Linked DNA regions of Homo sapiens. The protein of the gene in region 3 interacts with the protein of the main gene of each other region in a pairwise test. Each region holds a gene or a part of one and is shown on either strand. Other genes may lie near its edges.

The links. Proteins that work in one complex are often made in the same cells at the same time.
Region 1: the proteins of SLC30A3 (region 3) and SGPL1 interact in binary tests that used the Homo sapiens proteins (3 or more experiments, as listed by UniProt).
Region 2: the proteins of SLC30A3 (region 3) and ELOVL4 interact in binary tests that used the Homo sapiens proteins (3 or more experiments, as listed by UniProt).

Annotation. Positions count from the first base shown.
Region 1 is NC_000010.11:70,874,928-70,881,690, forward strand, and holds the end of SGPL1 (sphingosine-1-phosphate lyase 1), read left to right. Parts: intron 1-474; coding exon 475-621; intron 622-1,613; coding exon 1,614-1,734; intron 1,735-2,267; coding exon 2,268-2,408; 3' UTR 2,409-6,257; downstream 6,258-6,763. UniProt on the Homo sapiens protein: Cleaves phosphorylated sphingoid bases (PSBs), such as sphingosine-1-phosphate, into fatty aldehydes and phosphoethanolamine. Elevates stress-induced ceramide production and apoptosis.
Region 2 is NC_000006.12:79,937,548-79,944,573, reverse strand, and holds part of ELOVL4 (very long chain fatty acid elongase 4), read left to right. Parts: intron 1-7,026. UniProt on the Homo sapiens protein: Catalyzes the first and rate-limiting reaction of the four reactions that constitute the long-chain fatty acids elongation cycle.
Region 3 is NC_000002.12:27,260,048-27,267,489, reverse strand, and holds the start of SLC30A3 (probable proton-coupled zinc antiporter SLC30A3), read left to right. Parts: upstream 1-4,442; 5' UTR 4,443-4,583; coding exon 4,584-4,678; intron 4,679-7,442. UniProt on the Homo sapiens protein: Probable proton-coupled zinc ion antiporter mediating the import of zinc from cytoplasm into synaptic vesicles and participating to cellular zinc ion homeostasis in the brain.

The sequences.
Region 1 (6,763 bases), on a different chromosome or scaffold from region 3:
TAAAAATTAGATATATATAAAAGGTCCTCCTATAGCTCTGATAGGGCCATTTATTAAGACCTGCTATACCATTTCTTGCTTTAGGGATTACATATGACTTTTTAGAACTGTGGAGATGGGCAGATTACTTTTCCAGAAATTTTTTTAGTACATCTTTCATGCCTCAGAAGCATCTAGGGGAATATAATTGGGAGTTGGGTAGACAGGTTCGAAGTCAGTGATTGAGTCATTAGATCTAGATGGGGTTTGGGCCTTGGAATTCCATTTTTATTGTTCCATCTATGATTCTGATCTCAGTAAGAACCACTGATCCAGTGTAGCCCTCTTCTTTTTTGAAGATGAGAAGACTAAAGCCCAAAGGGTTAGATTGCATTCATTATAAGGAAGACTTTGAATGATTAAAGAGATAGTGACCAGGGGATTGTATGTGACTGAATTTACTTTTTCTTCCTTCATTTATTTTTTTGTTTTAAGACTGGAAAATATCAAAGGCATCTTTGTTTTTGGGAATCCCCAATTGTCAGTCATTGCTCTGGGATCCCGTGATTTTGACATCTACCGACTATCAAACCTGATGACTGCTAAGGGGTGGAACTTGAACCAGTTGCAGTTCCCACCCAGGTAAGCTTGAAGAAGCCTCTTTCCCTTATTTTGCTCCATGATTTTGGAAGAACTTGGGTGGTACAGTAACCTGAAGTATAGAGTTTGACTGCTAGAGGCTAGCACGTTAGTAGCAACTGTAGTATATAAAGGATTTCTCTCTTGCCACCTGGAATTATTAGATACAAAGAACAAGACCATTAGCTTTAAACTCTGGCAGAATTAGGTGACAGCCTCCTAGACCAGTGGTTGGTCATGAGGTTTTTCTCTCAGTCTCTAGCCTTTCTACTCTCCAATCCATCTTGTACACAGCCATCAAATTGCTCTTATAAAATACTTGTTACCTGGCTAATATTTAGTTCAAGATCTTCCTGGGGGTCTCTAATCATTCAGGCCTGCTACTGCCTTCTTTATTAGACTTTTCTAACCTAATCTTCCATGATGCCTTTGAGTAAATGCACCACTCCAACTGAGTACAGGTCTGTTCATGTCCTCTGTGTACAGCTTAGCCTTCCACACGTTGGTGCATTGCCAGTCCCATCTGGACTATCTTTTTCCCTCTTCACAATTCCAGTAAACCCCACTAAATTCCTCCAGGGCGAGGTAGAATTTCTTCTGTGCCCTGAAGTCCTTTAAGACCCCAGCCATGTGGCCCTGTCCCCATGAGAGCACATGGGGGCTGATTATCTAAGATAAAAGTGTCTCATTGATGGTGACGTGGTTGAAGGAATGGTGGTGGAATTTGTGAGGGGATGGGTGGGACAAAGCAGCCAACACTGTTCATCCTCTTAGCATGGTTCTCAGTCATGCCGAGAAGCTCTGAGGCCAGCCCATGCCTGACACCCCAAGCATGAGAGAGCCGAGATTCCCAGGACTAGGAACAACTTGGATGACTACACTTGTCAGAAATATTGTGAAAGGGCAACCAGGAAATTCCCGTATTTGGGGCTGCATCATTTTAGAACATTTTTTCTTTCTTCAAGGTTCATCTCTCTCTGTCTCTTCTTTCCTAGTATTCATTTCTGCATCACATTACTACACGCCCGGAAACGAGTAGCTATACAATTCCTAAAGGACATTCGAGAATCTGTCACTCAAATCATGAAGAATCCTAAAGCGAAGACCACAGGAATGGTAGGGACACTTGGAGTTTTTTTTCTTCTCTTGGAAATTTAGGTGTTGGTGGAGAGTTTGAAGGAATCATATGACCCGGAGTCTGTTCCTGCCTCTGCCCCTTTGCCACAGACATCTTTTATTTGTTGACTGGAGCTGATGATCTCTGCATCACCCACCCCTTAGGGTTGCTGAAGTCTCAAATGAGATACACTATAAAGTACCTTGTAAGTTAGAGACTTCTGTATAAAAGCAGCTGGTGGTAGTGTCCATTTGAAAAGAAAATTTTGTCACAGGAAAGATAGTAAACATGTTTTTTCTGGAATTTTCTTAGGCTAGTCCCTTTATGCAGAAAGGCAGACTGGAAAGTCCCTGTGAAAAATTGACTATGCCAGCTGTTTTTCTGATAGAATGATGGGATGCCTTAGGTGGAAATGGGGTAGGGCAGTGCACATGCGAAGCTAGGACTCGGGGAGAAGGGGCTCATTGCTGCAGTTTTATTCTTGCTTTTGGACCTGGCCTCACTAATAATGTCTCTTTCTTTGGATTTGTAGGGTGCCATCTATGGCATGGCCCAGACAACTGTTGACAGGAATATGGTTGCAGAATTGTCCTCAGTCTTCTTGGACAGCTTGTACAGCACCGACACTGTCACCCAGGGCAGCCAGATGAATGGTTCTCCAAAACCCCACTGAACTTGGACCCTTTCTAGTCTCAAGGGGATTCCAGCCTTCAGAAGGTTCTTGGGATATGGAACAGGCCGTGCACAACTTTGACATCTGGTCTTGCTCCATAGAGCACAACTCAAGATAGACCATGAGACAGCTTGAGCCTCAGGATTCTTGTTCTTCCTCTTATCTTCCTTTTGTGGTTTTTAATTTGAAGACCCCAGAGAATTCCATTACATAATGATTTTGCCCTTGTTATAAATGTTACCCTAGGAATTGTTTTAACCATTTCCTTTTCTAAACTCTCTAGCTTTCAACTTTACTTAAACATTGTGTGGTAGCTCTGACCTGTCCTGATTCTTTAGAGAAGCTGGGGTACAGTTTATGAGATAGCTAGAGCTTCTTTGTTATCTCAGGCAGGAGGCGTTTACATAACAGATGTTTCCTCAGCTGGGTGTGAGGTATACTCTAAGCAGGAGGCTTTTTCAGCCTTCTCTCTCTTTTTTTTTTTTTTTTTTTTTTTTGAGATGGAATTTTGCTCTTTTGCCCAGTCTGGAGTGCAGTGGCATGATCTCAGCTCACTGCAACCTCCACCCACTGGGTTCAAGCGATTCTTCTGCCTCAGCCTCCCGAGTAGCTGGGATTACCGGCACCCACCACCACGCCTGGCTAATTTTTCAATTTTCTTTTTCAGTAGAGACGGGTTCACCGTGTTGGCCAGGCTGGTCTTGAACTCCTGACCTCAGGTGATACCCGCCCCCCCGCCTCAGCCTCCCAAAGTGCTGGGATTACAGGCGTGAGCCACCGTGCCTGGCCCTGTCTCTCTTAAGAGTAGGTTCATTGTCTGTCTTAGAGTCACTTCTATTGCAACTCATTTTCTTTTTCCAGGGCACAGATCGACCAAGCTGCCGTTCCCTATTCTGCAGGACAGGACTATTCTAGCATACCTGCTTCGTCCACCCAGGCAGGGTTTGGGGTGGTCTCTTCTGTGCCTGCAGTCCCCATTTGACACTTGGTTGCCACCATCTTTGGAGATTATTGTTTGGAATGATGCTTCCATTGGCTTTTTCTTGTTACCATGGACTAGGAAGAAAACATGGTTTCCAAATAATCTGGGAGCTTTTGGCCATGGTGCCGCCTTCCTGAATTGGCAGTGGTCAGAGCACACCTGAACCCTATCCTGGGCTGGTGATGAGCAGAAATCAGACCTTTTTCTATGCTTTTTTGAATATCAGAGTAGGATGAACACCCAGATTCAAATATGTCACCAAAGTTGGTGGTGGTCCTTCCCTGCACCCTTGCGTTAAGCCATTATGTAATGAAAATGTGTTTGCTTGAAGGAACAGCTCAAAGCACCTTCACAAGTTGCCTTGACTTACCCTAGGTGGGTGTGAAAGAGCACCCGTAGCAAGGAAAATTTTCTCTATTAGTGTGTTCTTCTGCCTCTTCCCCCTTGATTCAGCTTTCAGAGGTACTATGGCAGTTTTGCCTCAGGTGCTGAACATTTCTCAGCCCTGGCTAAAAGGGAGCAGCACAGGGAGAGAAACAGGATAGGAAAGCAGAATGGCGAGCAGCCTATGGCCCAGGGCCTGTAATCCCTTCCCAAGACTAGCTGCTCAGGGTGGTGCAGGGACAGGACCAGACCCTGCGCCTATTTCCTGCCTTCTTTCCCCTATAGGGAACTCTGTAGGCTGAGCCACTGTCCTGCTCTTATGACATTATATCTTGTGCCTTTCTCCTCAGCAGTGAGCAGTGAGCTACTCCTGGCCCAGGCCCTAGGGGAAATGGATCAGTCTTTGAGGTTTCTATTTGGGGAGGGGAGTACTTAAGATGAGTCAAAAGACACTTTCCTCTGTTCCATTCCCCATCTCAGGGACTCCTGAATATTCAGCCTCTCCAGGCTGGTGTCTTCTAGTTTCCCCCACTGGGAATGCTGGCTGGGAGAGCCATGACTACCAGACTTTTCCTCAGGCTCCTTGGCATGTTAGTCTGAATTGTTCTTGAGCACTGTACTACTGACCCAACAACTGTGACTAGCTGGCCACGCCATTCAGGGCTGGTGTGGCATTTATGTGTGTGTGTGTGTGTGTGTGTGTTTTTCCTGTTTGCCCAGCAGTGCATTGTGGGTTCCAAGAGTGGGTAGTGTGTGTATGTGTGTGTGTCAGAGGGAGACCTGGCAGGCACCTCTTTGAGAGTAGCTGTGGTCAGAGCTGTTTGGTCAGTGCATTATGTTGAATGAGGTCCAGGAACCCAGAGCCACCCAGCAGACACCACTGTGGCTTGCCAGCTGCCAAGATGGAGAAGCATGTGCCCCTGTAGAGCGTCTCCCCAGAACCAGACCCCGAGCCACTCGCTTCCTCTGTGCTGTGACAACATTGGTGCCAGGGGAGATGGTGTTTTTCAAAGGGACCTACTGTAGCCACTTTAATTTACAATTAAGAGCCTTAGTTTGACTTAACACTTTTGTAGGCTTTTCATTGTGTATTTTTGTGTATGTGTGCATATAGCAGCTACTCTGTAGCAGAGGTGGGTAGAGACACTTAATAGTATCATGTCGCATGCAGATGTCACATCGGCCTCTGCAAAAACTGTACTGTCTTGTTTCTGCATTAGACTTAAGTAGTCATGTGAATATACTGCTATGTCACTTTTAATATTACGAGTTTTATACTTGGAAAATGGTACTTGCTTCTTTTAAATCTCTGTCTTCTCTAACCTCCCCCTTCCCATTTCAATGCTCCCTTCCTAATTTCAGCAATAATCTCAAAAAGCAATTAAATAGTTAAATGACCCTAATTGTAATTACTGTGGATGGTTGCATTCATTTGATTACTTGGGCACACACGAGATGACAAATGGGGCAGTGGCCATGCTTGAATGGGCTCCTGGTGAGAGATTGCCCCCTGGTGGTGAAACAATCGTGTGTGCCCACTGATACCAAGACCAATGAAAGAGACACAGTTAAGCAGCAATCCATCTCATTTCCAGGCACTTCAATAGGTCGCTGATTGGTCCTTGCACCAGCAGTGGTAGTCGTACCTATTTCAGAGAGGTCTGAAATTCAGGTTCTTAGTTTGCCAGGGACAGGCCCTATCTTATATTTTTTTCCATCTTCATCATCCACTTCTGCTTACAGTTTGCTGCTTACAATAACTTAATGATGGATTGAGTTATCTGGGTGGTCTCTAGCCATCTGGGCAGTGTGGTTCTGTCTAACCAAAGGGCATTGGCCTCAAACCCTGCATTTGGTTTAGGGGCTAACAGAGCTCCTCAGATAATCTTCACACACATGTAACTGCTGGAGATCTTATTCTATTATGAATAAGAAACGAGAAGTTTTTCCAAAGTGTTAGTCAGGATCTGAAGGCTGTCATTCAGATAACCCAGCTTTTCCTTTTGGCTTTTAGCCCATTCAGACTTTGCCAGAGTCAAGCCAAGGATTGCTTTTTTGCTACAGTTTTCTGCCAAATGGCCTAGTTCCTGAGTACCTGGAAACCAGAGAGAAAGAGGATCCAGGATGTACTTGGATGAGGAGGCCTGGCTTATCTAGGAAGTCGTGTCTGGGGTGCTTATTGCTGCTCCATACAGCTGTACGTCAGCCCCTTGGCCTTCTCTGTAGGTTCTTGGCAGCAATGAGCAGCTTTCACTCAGTGACACAAGTAATTACTGAGTCCTAATTTGATAGCCACCAACTGTACCTGGGTAGGCAAAGTCAGATTTTTGAGAACCTTTTTCCTGATTTGAAGTTTTAATTACCTTATTTTCTTTTATGCTTTCCTCTGTCTTGTAATCTTTTCTCTTCTTAATATCCTTCCCTATAATTTCAATTATTTGGATTAATTTTAGAATAAACCTATTTATTTCTAAAAAAAAAAAGAAAAGAAAGTGTTACCTGTGTCTTTGTCTCACATGAATGTGCTTCATACAACTGTAGTGCTGCCAAGGTTGGCTTTATTTTTTGGAGACAAGGTTTCACTGTCACCCAGGCTAGAGGGCAATGGCATGATCATCACTCACTGTAGCCTTGACTTCCTGGGCTCAAGTGATCCTCCCACCTCAGCCTCCCGAGTAGCTGGGACCACAGGTGTGTGCCACCATGCCTGGCTAATTTTTCTGTATATTCTGTAGAGACAGAGTTTCTCTACATTGCCCAGCCTAGTCTCTAACTCCTGAGCTCAAATGATCCTCCCGCCTTGGCCTCCCAAAGTGTTGGAAATACAGGCATGAGCTGTCCCTGCATCGGGTGAACATTTTTCAACCCTTGACCCATGAAAATAAGCAGAGGCAGGAATGTAACATAACAGCATAGTCCATACCTCCGCATCTGGCGTCTTCTGTCCTTCAGTCCTCCAGTCATCAGATCAAAGCACACTTGGAAAATT
Region 2 (7,026 bases), on a different chromosome or scaffold from region 3:
AAAATATGGTCCATAATAATGTTAACAACAAAAATGTTACTTTTACTACAGTATTAACACTTTGTACATTGGAATTGAAAGTTTGAAAGAGCTATACTTTTAGAAAAACAACAAAAATAATTTTTATTTCTCTGTATTTGTAGACATTTTGAACGAGGAAATTAGCGTTGGTTTATGTTAAAGTATAGGCTGGTGTAGGACTTTATACTAGTTGTTAGTATTAGAGTAGGTATTCCATGTCATCATGTTAGTTTTTTTCTTCTATTCTTTCACTTCATGAGTACATTTAAATTATTAGGATTGGAGTCCTAGGCTCAACGTATACATCTAATAAAAGTTGTATATACATTTTTTAAACTGATGAATCTAAATATTCCCCAATCTATGAATACCCAACTTATCTACATTATTCATTTATTCATGCTTTTAATAAATGTTTAATAGCTTTTTTGCATACCTGACATTTAGCATATAAACACCCTAGAGAGTTAGTAGGATGCTTACGGTAAAGCCAGGTGTCTCCTGTGAGGCCATGTATCTTCTGACCATTTGTTTCTAAATAGCTGTTGTTCACAGGGTATGGGTGCTGTCTGTTGGTTGGGGGTGGTAATGATTGGCATTGGCCCTCTTTTCGCAGATATAGTACCCTGCATTTTGGTGAAAAAAATTGTCTACTTGGTAGTTGCAGTTAGAACATAACTTGCTGGGTCCTTGAATTAACTTTGGAGGGGTCAGAAAGAAGGGATGAGTGGTACAGGAAGAGGGAGGAGAGCTGTAGGATGACGAAATGTGGAAGCCAGGCTTATGATACCATTTCTTTCCGTATTTACTTGCCATGTACAGGCACAGTTCTAGGCTCTGGAAAGGAAAGGAGGACACTTGGTCACTGCCCTCATGCATCTTGCAAAGTCTAGGGGGTCACTGTCATTCCCCTTTCCTTGATATCATGGTCTGGAGGCAGTGTGATCTGTCAGACTCAGGACTAGCTGGGGCCTAGGGAAGATCAGAAAAGTCCTTCCCTGCTCTTCTCATCTCTACTTCTCCTAAGTGAAAGGAATATACAGTTGTTTTTAGAATATTTTAGCTGTTTCACCACAGTTTACTTCCCTCTACCCTTGAATGAGGAGTTGATGTGAGTACTGTCAGAGTATTTGGAGAGGCATACTAGGGCAAAAGGTGTCAAAGGCAAGGGGAACAGCTTGACTGAAAACCATGGAAACTGGGAAGGTGCTTAAGGGTCAGGCCAGTGAGTCATCCAGGTTTGATGAAGCTGGGGGCTAGTGGGAGGGGATGTTTAACTCAGCTCAAATAAGCTGAAGTAAAAGCAGGTTTGTCTTAGGGATTGCTAGGTCCCAGAGGAGCATGTATTTTAAGTATTGTACAGTATGCTTACATTAATTTTATTATTCGTCACAGTTAATGTTTAGTTTTTCATCTATGTTATTATCTAAAATAGGTTTATTTGTTTGGCTAAGCCTGGTAATGCAGTTTTCTTTGAATGTTTCTTTGAGAAAAGACATTCTGATTCCAAGTTGTAGGCAGCTAATTAAAAAAAAAAAAGAAAGAAAGAAACATCACCAGCTCCTAACATGGGATCTCCCTTGGTCACTGTTTTCAGTGACGTCCTAATTATCCTTTACTCATAAGCTCCTTGAAGCCTCTGGGATGTCCATGCCATTTTATGGTTTTTTGTTTTGGTTTGGTTTTTATTGTCTTTTCCTTCACCACAGTTTGATTTTTGGTGGTAGACTGCTAGACTTTAATAGCTAATGCTCTTATCCATTCCCCAATGATAGCATAAAGTAAAACATCCTATTGCAGATGGAATTCCAGGAGGGTAAACAATGCAGGTTCTAAAACGGGTGTCAGGACACAGTTTTAACTATTTTAACTTAGATTCTTTGGCTTAGGAAGACAAAGTTTTAAGAATTATGCAGATAATTATATCAGATGGCACTTTTGTAAACTTAAGAGCCACAGAGCACTTGGTCATCCTTTAAAAATTCAATTTGTTTTCTTATTTTTTTGCTCAAGTCCTGTGGATAATGTCACCTGTAAATGCTTTAACATTATTAACGTAAGTATTTTCATTTGTTAAGCCACTTATTATTCTGAATTAGGCATATATTAGCACACCGAAATGAGTAGTGTAACAGTCTATCTTTTTTCACTTTAGATGTTTTTTTCGTCTTCATTATCAGGACATTTTGCCTGTTAACAAACGAAGGTACTATTGTTTTATTTTCTATTAGAATATATATTTTAAAATCATGTGGGTTTGGATTTCAGAAAGGAGATGGGAGGAAACACATGGCCTTTTAAAGCCAAGGTCCACATTAACTTTCTCGCTTGATCCTTCAGTATTCCCCTGCCCAAAGACCTGCAGCTCTAGCCAACTGGGATAACTCACTGACCCTTAAGTAAAATGTGTACATGTCCACCTTTATGTTTCTCATCCCACCATTCCCCTTGCCTTTACCCACCTTTTCCCTGTTTACCTCTCCAGATACCTTTTACCAGAACCCAGTACAATAGTCCTCCTTTGCAAAGCCTTTCTTGTTTATGGTACCCTGGAGCAAGTTGTTGTCTCACAGGAGCTCATTGTCTTTAGTAATTACTCACGTATTTCCTGTGCCATTCCTTCTATGACCCTAGTGTCAAACTGTTTAAACTTTCGTTATTATTTACCACTTCACTCCTTTGTATCTTTCTCTCCAACATCAGAGATTATCACATATATTTGTTGATATGATATGTATCAGGAGATGACCCTCTTAATCTAGCATAATTTTGAATCATGATATATTGTGGTTGCTAAACATGAATAAGGCTTTAGACCACACTAAATTACAGAAGGTTTTTGTTTTTGTTTTTCATAGAGTGGGGATTTCACCATGTTGCCCTGGCTGCTCTTAAACTCCTGGTGTCATGTGATCTGCCCACCTCAGCCCCACAAAGTGCTGGGATTACAGGCACGACCCACTGTGCCCGGCCAGAGAGTTCTTTAAAAGAATGATATTTTTTATGAGTTGGTCATTAATTCAGTTGCCGTTCACTAAATTTAATGAGTAAATCAGGCCATTAAGTCATTTAGAAGCACAAAACAGATAAAAAATGAAGATTCCAAGACATATAAAATCAGATATGATTGTTCTCTTCATTGTCTGTGCAGAAGCATTGCCTTGTGTGGAAGTGAGGAGGGCAGTGTGGTATAGTGAATGGGAAGAATTCTGGACTGGGATTTAGATGACCTAGGTTTTAGTCCTGGTCTGCTGCTGATTTGCTATGAGAGTTTGGACAAGTTCCTTTGCCTTCCCAATTCTCAGCATTGTTCTCTGTAAATTAAGAGGGTTAAATTAGGTAATCTGTAAGGTCCTACCTGACTCTAAAAGTCTAGATATAGATATCACTTTCTTTATTCTTGGAATAGGTAAAGCAATTTCAAATAAATATACATTTATCAGGGATTCAGAAACCTCATTCTTTATAGTAAATAAAATTTTTTTCCAGCAAAACTGTTATCAACACTGCCTAAATAGTACAAATAACAGATTCTTATTTAGTTCTTTTTACTTTTTAAAATTTGCTTTATAAGAAATAGGTAGAGGAATAGAGCAACAAAAGTATACAGATATTTAAGCGTCTGTTTTGAAATAACATTGCTTTTGTTGCTGTAACACTATACCTGTTTAATTATCTGGATTCCTTGAATAACCAAGAGCCAACTATTTTATCGAAAACAGTAGCAATAATATTAAAGAATAAAATTATCTCAATTATATATTACATTTATTTTGTGATACTCAGCTTTTGAGGATGGCATATTATGTCGTTTTAGGCAAGTTATTCATGACTCTTTGGGTCTCTTATTTCTACCTGTGCTGTGAGAGGGTTGAACTACATAACCTTTAAGGCTTAGTTTATTGAATCCTTATAACATCTCCTAAAACAGCAGCCTAGATATCAGTCTAAACTCAGTCTTCATATTTTTCCAATAGAAAATGTGAAATTTTAACATACATCATTACAAATGATTTTCTATTATAAACACTTTATATATGAGCATTTTTTACTTAAGTTTGGAAGTATGGCTTAAGATTTTTGTAAAATTGATAAAAATGTGTAGGTCTTACAGAAGAGAAAACAAAAGAAACTAAATGGTTTTGGTATAAGTATGTTCCTTAACTAATCAAAATACAAATTTTTAAAATCTTTTGCCATATATTTTTCTTCATGAAATATTACCATTTGTAAACAAATACCTTAGAATGATGTTTTATTTATGATTATATTGTATTAGAGTAAAATTTTTGGAATTTGAAAGACAAATGCATTAGTCCACTGAGGAAATCAGTTACTCACTGTCAGGTATAATCACATAAAAGCATTTGTGATTTTGAACTGCAGAATTCCAAGAAACAAGCTTTTCTGTTTTCATTTTTATTCACTTATCAAACAAAAACTTGAGCACAGATGTGTGTTTTTAACTAATTTTATATATTTTTTCACACACGTACATAGCAGCATTATTCACAGTAGTTAAGAGGTGGAAACGACCCAGATGTCCAGTGTTGGATAAATGGATAAACGCAACGTGGTATATACATACAATGGAATATTATTCAGTCTTAAAAAGGAAAGAAATTCTGACATGTGCTACAACATAGATGAACCTTGTTACTAAGTGAAATAGTCTAGTCACAAAAAGATAATTATGTATGTGGCATTATGGTTCCACTTATATGGACCCTCTACTGTAGTCAAATTCGGGCTGGGCCCAGTGGCTCATGCCTATAATGCTAGCACTTTGGGAGGTGGAGGCTCAAGGATCACTTGAGCCCAGGAGTTCAAGACCAACATGAGCAACAAAAAAATATTAAAAATTAGCCAGGCCTGGTGCCATATGCCTCTAGTCTCAGCTATTGAGAAGGCTGAGGGAGAAGGATCACTTGAACCTGGGAGGTGAAGGCTTCAGTGAACCATAATTGTGCCACTGCACTCCAGCCTGGGTGACAGAGTAAGATCCTGGCCCAATAAATAAATAAATAAATAAATAAATAAATAAATAAAGTAGTCAAATTAATAGAAACAGAAAGTAGAAAGATGTTTGCTAGGGCCTGGGGAGAAGGAGAACTGATGACTTGTTTAATAGGTATAGAGTTTCAGTTTTTCAAGATAGAAAAGTTCCAGAGAGTCACAACAATGTGGATATGCTTAATGATACTGGACTGTACACTTAAAAATGATTAAGATGGTATATTTTATGTTATGTGCTTTTCTTTTTACCGCAATGCAAGAATTTCATATATTATAAAATTAATACATTAGCACCTGTAGAAATGATCTCTTTAGTGCTCAATGGTAAAACAGTCAATTCTTCTTTATTTTTTCAATTTAAAGTAAAATGACTTTATAAAGAGACTATATAGCTGTTGGCTTAAAAAAAATCCGAGTGGCTAGAAAGTAGCAAATAACAAGAAAGAAAACTTTAGCTTTGTATTTTGCTTTATGGTTTTACAAACAACTTCACAATAACTCTGGGAGATAGGCCTTGAAGGCATTTTTTCCATATATTTAGAAGTCTTTGAGATTTACAGAAGTTACGTAACTTTTGTAGGTGGTCACTATAGTGCAAATGAATGTGCATGGGTTGTTTTGTCCCTAGCCCAGTGCTCTTGTCTTCCCGTCACACTAGCCAAGCAAGAAAGAAATAATCAGGCCTGTAATCTGTGTTTCTCTTTTATTTTACCTTTTCTTTTATTGTTATCTACAGAGTATCACTGTTTAGAATACTAAATCTGAACAAAGTCATAATATTACCAAAGATCATCTAAAGAAAGACATCTAAATATTCAAAGGTGCTATAAAGGCTGGTGTATGAGATTAAACTACAAAGTGATATTTATTCATATACTATATACATACACAAATATGTGAATATATGTAGAATACAAAATGCGATATTTAGCCTGAGAAGATGGTTAACTTCCATATGACGGTGTAGGATTGTTTAAAAAAAGTGTATTCAAAGTGAATTATGAAAGTATTTGCCAAATTGCATAATACAAGAGCTAGAAACTTGTTAGTGAAAGGATAATGAAATTCATTCAGGACTAACCGTATTTTACCCAGTGGCTATTCAACTTATAGAACTGTTAGAGTCAAGGGAAGATTTTGGCTAAAGTTCCCATTAACTCACACACTCACACACTCTAATGGTATCTTCCATCTTTTTTGCTAAAGGGAAACACCATTTCAATTTTCTTAAAGCTTTGAGTTCATTGGCAGCATTGGGTGGATGGTTGAACTTGGAACTCCCAGATTAAGTTTTATGACTACTTTTTCTGAGAAGCCCAGCAAAATTGGAAACAAGGAGAGAAGGAAACTACTTGTATTCTGATCTTGGCTTCCAGGAAACGAGGCAACATTCTTCAGCTCTCTCTCTCGAGATATATTTTCTCCCTTGAAATTGTCTCCTTTTCCCTTATGAACTGGCTTTTATGAATAGGCCATTTTCTGAAGTCATGAATTTGGACATCACCTGCACTTGGGCATGGTGGCTCACGCCTGTAATCCCAGCACTTTGGGAGGCCGAGGCGGGTGGATCATTGAGGTCAGGAATTTGAAACCAGATATCGTCTGCACATGATGAAACTCACTACCATTTATTGAGCATTTAGTATAGGACCATTTTAAGATGCTGTAGTACTGTATTTGATACACCTTATATTTAATTTTCAGATCATCTCTATAAGTTAGATATTATTTAACCATCTATAGATGAAGAAATAGACTCAAAGCTACATAGCTAGAAAGTAACAGAGTTGGAATAGGATCAAGATCTTTCTCCTTCCCAACAGTGACCTTTTTATAATGCAACATAGCCTACTTATTTATTCAATAAATACCATTTTATTGCCCAGTAATAATAGTGAACATTTATTGGATGCTTACTAAGTGTCAGGCACTGTGTCCAGTGTTTTATATGTATTATCACATTTAGTCCTCATATTCCATTGGGCTCGG
Region 3 (7,442 bases):
TGTGTTGTAGGACTCACAAGAAGGCCAGGATGGCTGGGGAATGAGGTGGGAGAAGTGTGAAATGAGATCAGAGGAGCTAAATTCCGTAGGACCCCTTGCAGGCCATTAGAAGGACTCTGGCTGGTACTCTGAGTGTGATGGGGAGTGACAAATCTGATCTATGTTTACCTAACTGCTTGGTTGAGAATAGACTATAAGGCAGTAAGGATGGAAACATGGAGACCATGGAGGAGGCTATTGCAGTAATCAAGAAGACAGATGATAGTGGTTTGGACAAGGGCGGGATCAGGATTTGCTGACAGCTTGGATGTAGAGTGAAAATAGAGGAGTCGAGGATGACCCTAGGATGTCTGGCCTGAGCAGATGGGAGGATGGAGTTACCATATTCTGACATGGGAAGACTGCAGAAAGAGAAGGTTCAGGATGGCGTGACAATCAGGGGCTCAGTTTTAGACTTATGGAGCTTGATAGGCCTGCCTACCAGACAATAAGGAAGGGATGTCAAGCTGACATGTGGATATATGAGTTTGGAGTCCAAGTGAGAGATCTGAGAATCACCACCAAACACATGACATTTATTATTTATTTATTTATGAGATGGAATCTCACCTGTCATCCAGGCTGGAGTGCAGTGGCATAATCTCAGCTCACTGCAACCTCTGCCTCCCGAATTCAAGTGATTCTCCTGCCTCAGCCTCACAAGTAGGTGGGACTATAGGTGCATGCCACCACACCCAGCTAATTTTTGTATTTTTTAGTAGAGATGGGGTTTCACCATGTTGGCCAGGATGGTCTCAAACTCCTGATCTCAAGTGATCTGCCTGCCTCGGCCTCCCAAAGTGCTGGAATTATAGGTGTGAGCCACCAGCCAGGCTATTTTTAATCCTTTTTAATAGAAAAATTCAAACCCATACAAAAATAGAGAGAATGGTACAGTGACTCTCTATGTACCCAGAATCTAGCTTCAACAATCATTACTTTCTGCTGTTATTGGATAGTATTTAAAGACCAGAAACTGGATGATAGCTCCATGGGAGTGAGTGTGGAAAGAAAAGAGAAGAGAGTGACCAAGGCCTAGGCTAATTCAGCAAGAAAAGATTGAGAAGGTGGGGAGGAACCAGCAAAGGGGACTGAAAATAAACAGCCAGTGAAGTAGGAGGAAAACCAGATTATGGTAGCCTGGAAGCCAAATGATGAAACAAATAATTCCCAAGTAACAATTTAGTTACAGTATGATCAGTGCTGAAAGAAATAAACAGTGTGTTGACCCAGCATGGTGGCTCACACCTGTAGTCCCAGCACTTTGGGAGGCTGAGGCAGGAGGATCACTTGAGTCCAGGAGGTCGAGGCTGTGGTGAGCCATGTTTGTACCACTGCACTCCAGCCTGAGCAACAGAGTGAGACCCTGTTTCCAAAAAAAAAAAAAAAAGAACAAAACAGAAAAAGTATTGTGCGATGAGAGTGTATGACATGAGAATTAACTTAGTGTGGGGGCCAGAGAAGGCCTCCCCGAGGCAGTGACATTTAAGCTGTTGCCCTCCCTCATTCTCCCTGTGACCAGCTAAAATCCTACCTCCTCCATCCTGCTTCCACTCAACTAGCTCCTCCTTTCTGGGATGGCTTAATTGAGGACAGTGTGGCAGCCATTAGTGGGGTTTGGGGACACAGATGAGAAAGAAACAATTCCTGCCTTCAGGGAGCTTGCCCTGTAGCAGGGAGACAGACAAGCAAAGGACTTCATCACCATGAGGTGAGTGCTGGGATCAGATAAGCACAGTGTGAGCCTTGAGAGAAGCAGGGAGGGACACATACCCAGTCTGGGAGAAGTCAGGAAAGGCTTCCTGGAGGTGACATCTGAGTGGAGCATGGAGTAGAAGTTGGACCTCCAGGTTGCCTCCTCTGTCCATGCTCTTCAGCTTGGCTTGCACTTGTCAGGTGTTAACTCTTGTCCACATGCTTACATTTTAAAATTTGCCTGAAATCTCCAGCCCAGATTAAATCCTGACCTCAGTGCAGAGAATCGCACTTGAGGCCTGGCATTCGCGAGGACCCTTTGCAAAGATGTTCACAGGGCCATTTGATAGCTCTTTGAGGAACAGGTGGAAGCATCCTGTTTCGCCGCCAAGCTTTCCTTACATAAATTTTCAAGTGAAGGTTGGTATTCCCACCGCCGGCGCCCTCGGTTTCTGGAGGCGGCACGTTTGGCCACGCGCTGCGAGGCGCCTCTGCCTTCCCCGCCTGGTGGCTCCCGGCAGGGGCGGGCAGGGCACGTGAGGGCGTCTGCGCCCCCTCCTGGCACTCGGTGCTGCTGGCCGCGCGGGCTGCCCGGGAAGGGAAATCCCGGAGGAAGCCATTGTTGTTATGTCCCCTGTTGTCGTCATCGGCTGAGCCGTGCCAAGAATCCCTTTCCCCGCATAGGACCCCGCAGTTTCTCCCCATTCTCGAGCTCACCCGCCAGGGTCACTACGGGCCAGGCTGCCGCATCCGAGCCGCGGAGTGCGCGGTGGCCGCTGCGCATCCCAGCTCCAGGGTTCTCAGAATTGGGGAGAGCCCTAGGATGGGTGCGACGCTTAGAAAACCGACGGCGCCGGGCCCGACGTACCCAGAGCCCTGGCATAGCTAAGCAGGGACTTGGGTTCCACCTTGGCTCTGATAAGTAGCCCGAAAAGGTGAACTTGGCCGGTGGTTTCCTGCTCTCGCCGCCTCAATTTGCTTCCCTGTGACCCGAGGAGAAACAGAGGTCCGTCAAGTCCCGCGCCTTAAAGGGAGGTTAGAGGGAGAACGACCCCCTCGCTCCCTTACCCCCTCACCCCTCATGGGCTTTGGACTGGGGAGGCTGGGGGCTGGCGCGGAGGAGAGGCTGGCGCAGCCGGGGGTGGGGACGGCGCGGAGGGCGCGCGCAGCCCCTGTGGCTCTCCCGTGCCGCTCTGCAGCAGCGGCGCAGGACAGTCCCTTCGCACGCGCCGCCCGCACACCTTGGCACGGGCCAAGCCACACTCTCCCCCGCCGGAACAGCCAGCCCGCCGCCCAGCTTTCCTAATCCGTTTAAGCCTCACCTCCTCCGCGAAGCTCTCCCGGGTTAACCCCATCACTTCCAACCACTGTATCTGGCACGTGCTCCCGTTTTTGTTTTGTTTTGTTTTGTTTTTTTGCAAGTGCACTCTTGGGCTCGTTGGAATAACAATATCGAGGGTAGGTGTCTGTCCCCAGAAGCCTAAGTTCAGGACGCCCAGTGTGTTCTGAAGGATGCGGCTGATGAGTTTCTTGCCTGGGCTCACTAACCATTCCCACCCTCCACGCTTCCCCATCCCTGCTCACTCGCTCCCCTCCTCCTACGGACCCTCCTCTTCACAGACTGTCACAGCTTCGAGTGCACAATCCTCTTCCCACCCCCTCCCATTCTACAGTGGCGGCAGGTGCGAGGGGAGAGAACATTGAGCATTTGAAGCTTCGACTTGAGGCTCGGCCACCGACTTTGCTGTAAGTCGCTCCCTCCCCTGGGTTTTAGTTTCCCCCAAATGAGGCAGAATGCGGTAATGTCCAGGAGGGCGCTGCAGGTGTGGAGGATGGGAATCACTAGCTGACACGCTGCCCCGCTGCCCCTCAGCCCCTCTCCATAAACAGTGGCCGTGACACCAGATAGGCGGCTCGACTTCACTGGACCCCCGCCCGTAAGAGAACTGTGAGCGCTCTCCAGTTGCCAGTGCGGCGTCCAGAGCCGGGGAGGGAAAGAGGATGGGGGTCCAGGCCGGGCCCTTTATTCACAGCCTGCATGACCTTGGACTCTTCTTCCTCTGGGTCTCAGTTTACTCATTTGAAAAGCAGGGATAACAGTGGGTTGAAGGAGAGCAGGAAGCTTGTCACCCAATGTTTCTGTATAAAAATAAATGATCATTCGCGGTACAGTGATTGGCAGCAGACTGGGCTCGTGAATTCCGACCCCAGATTCTCCGTAAAGGGGTTTCTGGAGTCCCTGGAATCTCCCTGTGTCACCGCTCACCTCATGTTCTTTCTGGTTCTCTGGAGATAGGTAATGGGTCCGCTCCTGTTTCTGCCTCCGCGTGAGGGTTGCGGCCACAGGGTGACGGCGTGGTGGGCGACACCCCCGCGCAGGCATGCACAGAGTGGTGGTCGTTGGGCGAAGGTTGGTCGTGAGGTTCTTGGGCTTCAGGAGCGAGGCTTGGAACCGGTGGGCGGGACTGTGTGCAGAGGTGGGGCTAGCTCGCCTGGGGGACGGGGCTGTGGAGATGAGGAGTTCTCCAGAACTCGGGTGGCGGGGCGCTCCCGGGCTCTGGCGCGGGGAAATGGGGCTTTGGCAGTGGGGGCGGGGCTTAAGGGTGGGGAGAGGCCGGGGAGCCTGGAGGCGGAGCTTGGGGAGCTCGCCCCACGCGGGGCGGGGCTCCGGCGGCAGCGGGATCTGCAGTTCGGACTCCGCGCGCCACAGTCGCTGCAGTTCGCTCCACTCTGGTGGCCCCGCCGCCCTGCGGGGATCCCGGGGGTCGGCGGGCTGCTCGGACTTGGCGCGGGGCCGGCCCGGCCTCTCTCTTCCTCGGTGGGGCCTAGACGGTCGGGGCACCGGGAACATGGAGCCCTCTCCAGCCGCTGGGGGCTTGGAGACCACTCGCCTGGTGAGCCCCCGGGACCGCGGTGGCGCCGGAGGCAGCCTGCGTTTGAAGAGGTAGGACAGACCTGGGCTGGCCCTCGGCCCGGGGGCGCCACCCTACTACCCTCCGTCCATTTCGTTGTCTCTCTCGGCGCGGGCCCCGGCGGCCGCCCCAGCGCACCGCGGGTCCCTCGCTCCGCTGCACCCCGCTTCATCCCCTCTGGCCACACGGAGCGCCCAGCCCTACACAGCCGGCTACGCCTCCTCCCGGCCGCCTGACTTCCTCGGGTGAAGCGGCCTCTCACTCCCCTCCGGCCGGCGTCCCAGGCCGCCGGACCCCTCCGCCACCCCCGCGGCGCCTGCCTTCCCTGGGAGCAGCTGCCGCTCGGTCGGGCCGGAGCCCTCGCCCGGTGCGCCAAGGTCCGCATTGCCCCGGGCCCAGGGCGGGAGCGCCTCGCTGCCCAGGCTTCAGAGCTCCCTCTGTAGGCCCCGGGGGCTCCCCTCCGCGCGCCCCCTCCAGCCGCGGCCAGCTGTGGGCGCCGGGGCCCGAGGATGGGCCGGGCTCCGCGCGGGTCTTGCGGGCCCCTGGGGGGCGGGCGGCCGCCGGGAAGCGAGGGGGCGGCGAGGAAGGAGCAGGTGCGGTCTGGGCAGCGGGGGTATTCCCGGCTCCGCACAGACGGGGCCGGGGGCGGCGAGGTGTGAAATGAGGCGCGCGGAGCGGCCGGGACAGCGGGCCGGGGGTGGCAGGAGAACCGCCAACGCGCCCCGCCGGCCCCCGCGCCTGCCGCCACCGTCCACCTGCCCCTCTGAGCGGCCGTCCGACCTCCCTGCCCACCCCCGTGGGCCATCTTGTCTGTCGGCTGACCGTCCGTTTGTCTCCGGAATTTGGCAGGGTCTCCGGCTTTTTCTCTTCCCCCACCTCTCTCAATCTTTCTGTTTCTCTCCTAGTCCCTTTCCCTTTGTCTCTGACGTGGTGCTTCTGTGTGCTTCTCGCTCTTTCTTTGGGTGGGGGCCTTCAAGCTGGGTTGGGGGAGGGGGTGAGCAGAAGAGAGCTGGACCCCTTCCTGCAGGGGCCTGCAGAGACGCGGTGGGGGCTCTGCCGTAGGCCTGGCATCTCTTCAGGTGTCCTTTTGATTTTGGTTCAGCCCCTGCTACGTCACCCCTCTTCCCCGCTCAATATCGGTTGTTGGTTGGGGGTTTCGGAGGGCCAGGGAGAGGAAACAGCCTTTCCTTGTCTCTAAACAGCATGTAGCCACCCCACATGCCCACACCCCCACACACCAACAGCCAGGCTTCCTTAGTGCCCAAATTATGCAGAACAAAAGGGAGCAGCCTGTTGATGGGTGGCCACCTTGATGACTGGCTGTGCTGTGCCTTACAAGGCCAGGGAATGAATGTTGCCCACTGCCCCCAAAGCCACCCAGCCTCTGCGCTTCAGACTCACATCTCCAACTCCAGTCCATCTTCACTCATATGACCATTAGTCACCGAATCCTGCAGCATTTTCTGAAAGGCATTTCCTAACCTACCTGCCCCTCCAGGGAAGCTCTGGCCTGGTTTGTTCTAGACCCCTCCATTTCCTCTCTTCTCCTCTCTTCCTCCCATCAGCAAGGTCATCTCAGTGCTCAGGAGATATTTGTTCAAGCAGTCAGTGTATCTCCCTTTATGTTCCTTTGAGCCCATCACTTTCCTCCTCAGCCCTCCCCTGACACTTCACGCTTAGACTCCAAGCCACAAACCTCGTCTTTGTCATTCTACATGTCTGGAACACCCTTCTCCAACTAGGTCTCATCTCCTTAAACATACCTTTCTCTGTGAAGTTCTCCGAGCCCGCTGTGAGGGAGTGCTCCCTTCCCTGCACCCCAAAGTGCTTTGTTCATAACCCTCCTAGCATCAACCTGTCCTTATGTAGTAAGCCATTTGTTACAATCTGTCTTTCCCACCAGACCAGGCTTCATTATGTGTGCTCTGCCTGGTGCACCTCATTGAATGAATGAGGATCGGTTTCACAGCCTCCTTCACCACGCCATCTCCTCTGGAAACACATCCAGAATCATACACGCCCAGATTCTAAGTCTTGGATGGGGCTTTGGAAATTCAAGAAATTAATCTACCAGTATTTCAGTTCTCTGTACAAGCACCAAATGTTCCCCCTACCTCCCTCAAAACTCAGTTCACCCACTTGGCAGAATTGTCTTTAGCCAGAAGGCCCCAGACATCCCGCCCCACTTTGCTGCTATGATCACATTTCTATCTGGAGCCATCGTTTTTACTTGTGGGTATTCTTGTCACACCTCCATGAGTATTTCTAGTACTGTATTTTCTATTCAGGTCCTGAATTCTGTGGAAAATTCTGTCCTTGCTGGGTTCAGGTTGGGTAGTGGTGGGGCTGAGAATTGGACCAGAATGGACTTAGCACTCAGCCTGACCTCACTCAGCCTCTGGCATCCCCAGGTGAGGTCCCAAGCCCCATTCATTTGTCAAGGGAGACTTATGGTACCATGCAGTTAAGGTGGGCTCTGCTGGGTGCTTATAGTCGGACTGAAGTCCAATTAACATGCTCCTCCCACTGCCATCCTCAGCCATAGCAGGCTGCACCCCTTCCTCCCATGACAACCCCAGCTCTGGAATCTAGCCATCAGTTCTCTGTGCCCGGAATCAGACTTTTTGGCCCCAATGTCCCGCTCGTCTCTTAAAGGGCCACACTTCAGCTTCATGTCTAGGGAGGGCGGGGGCAGGATCCAGGAGTGGAGGTTCTGGGAGGTGGGCCTGGAAAGGAGGCACACCAAGGCCAGGAACACATGCTGAGTCCCACTCCACACTTCACTCCACCTTCCCT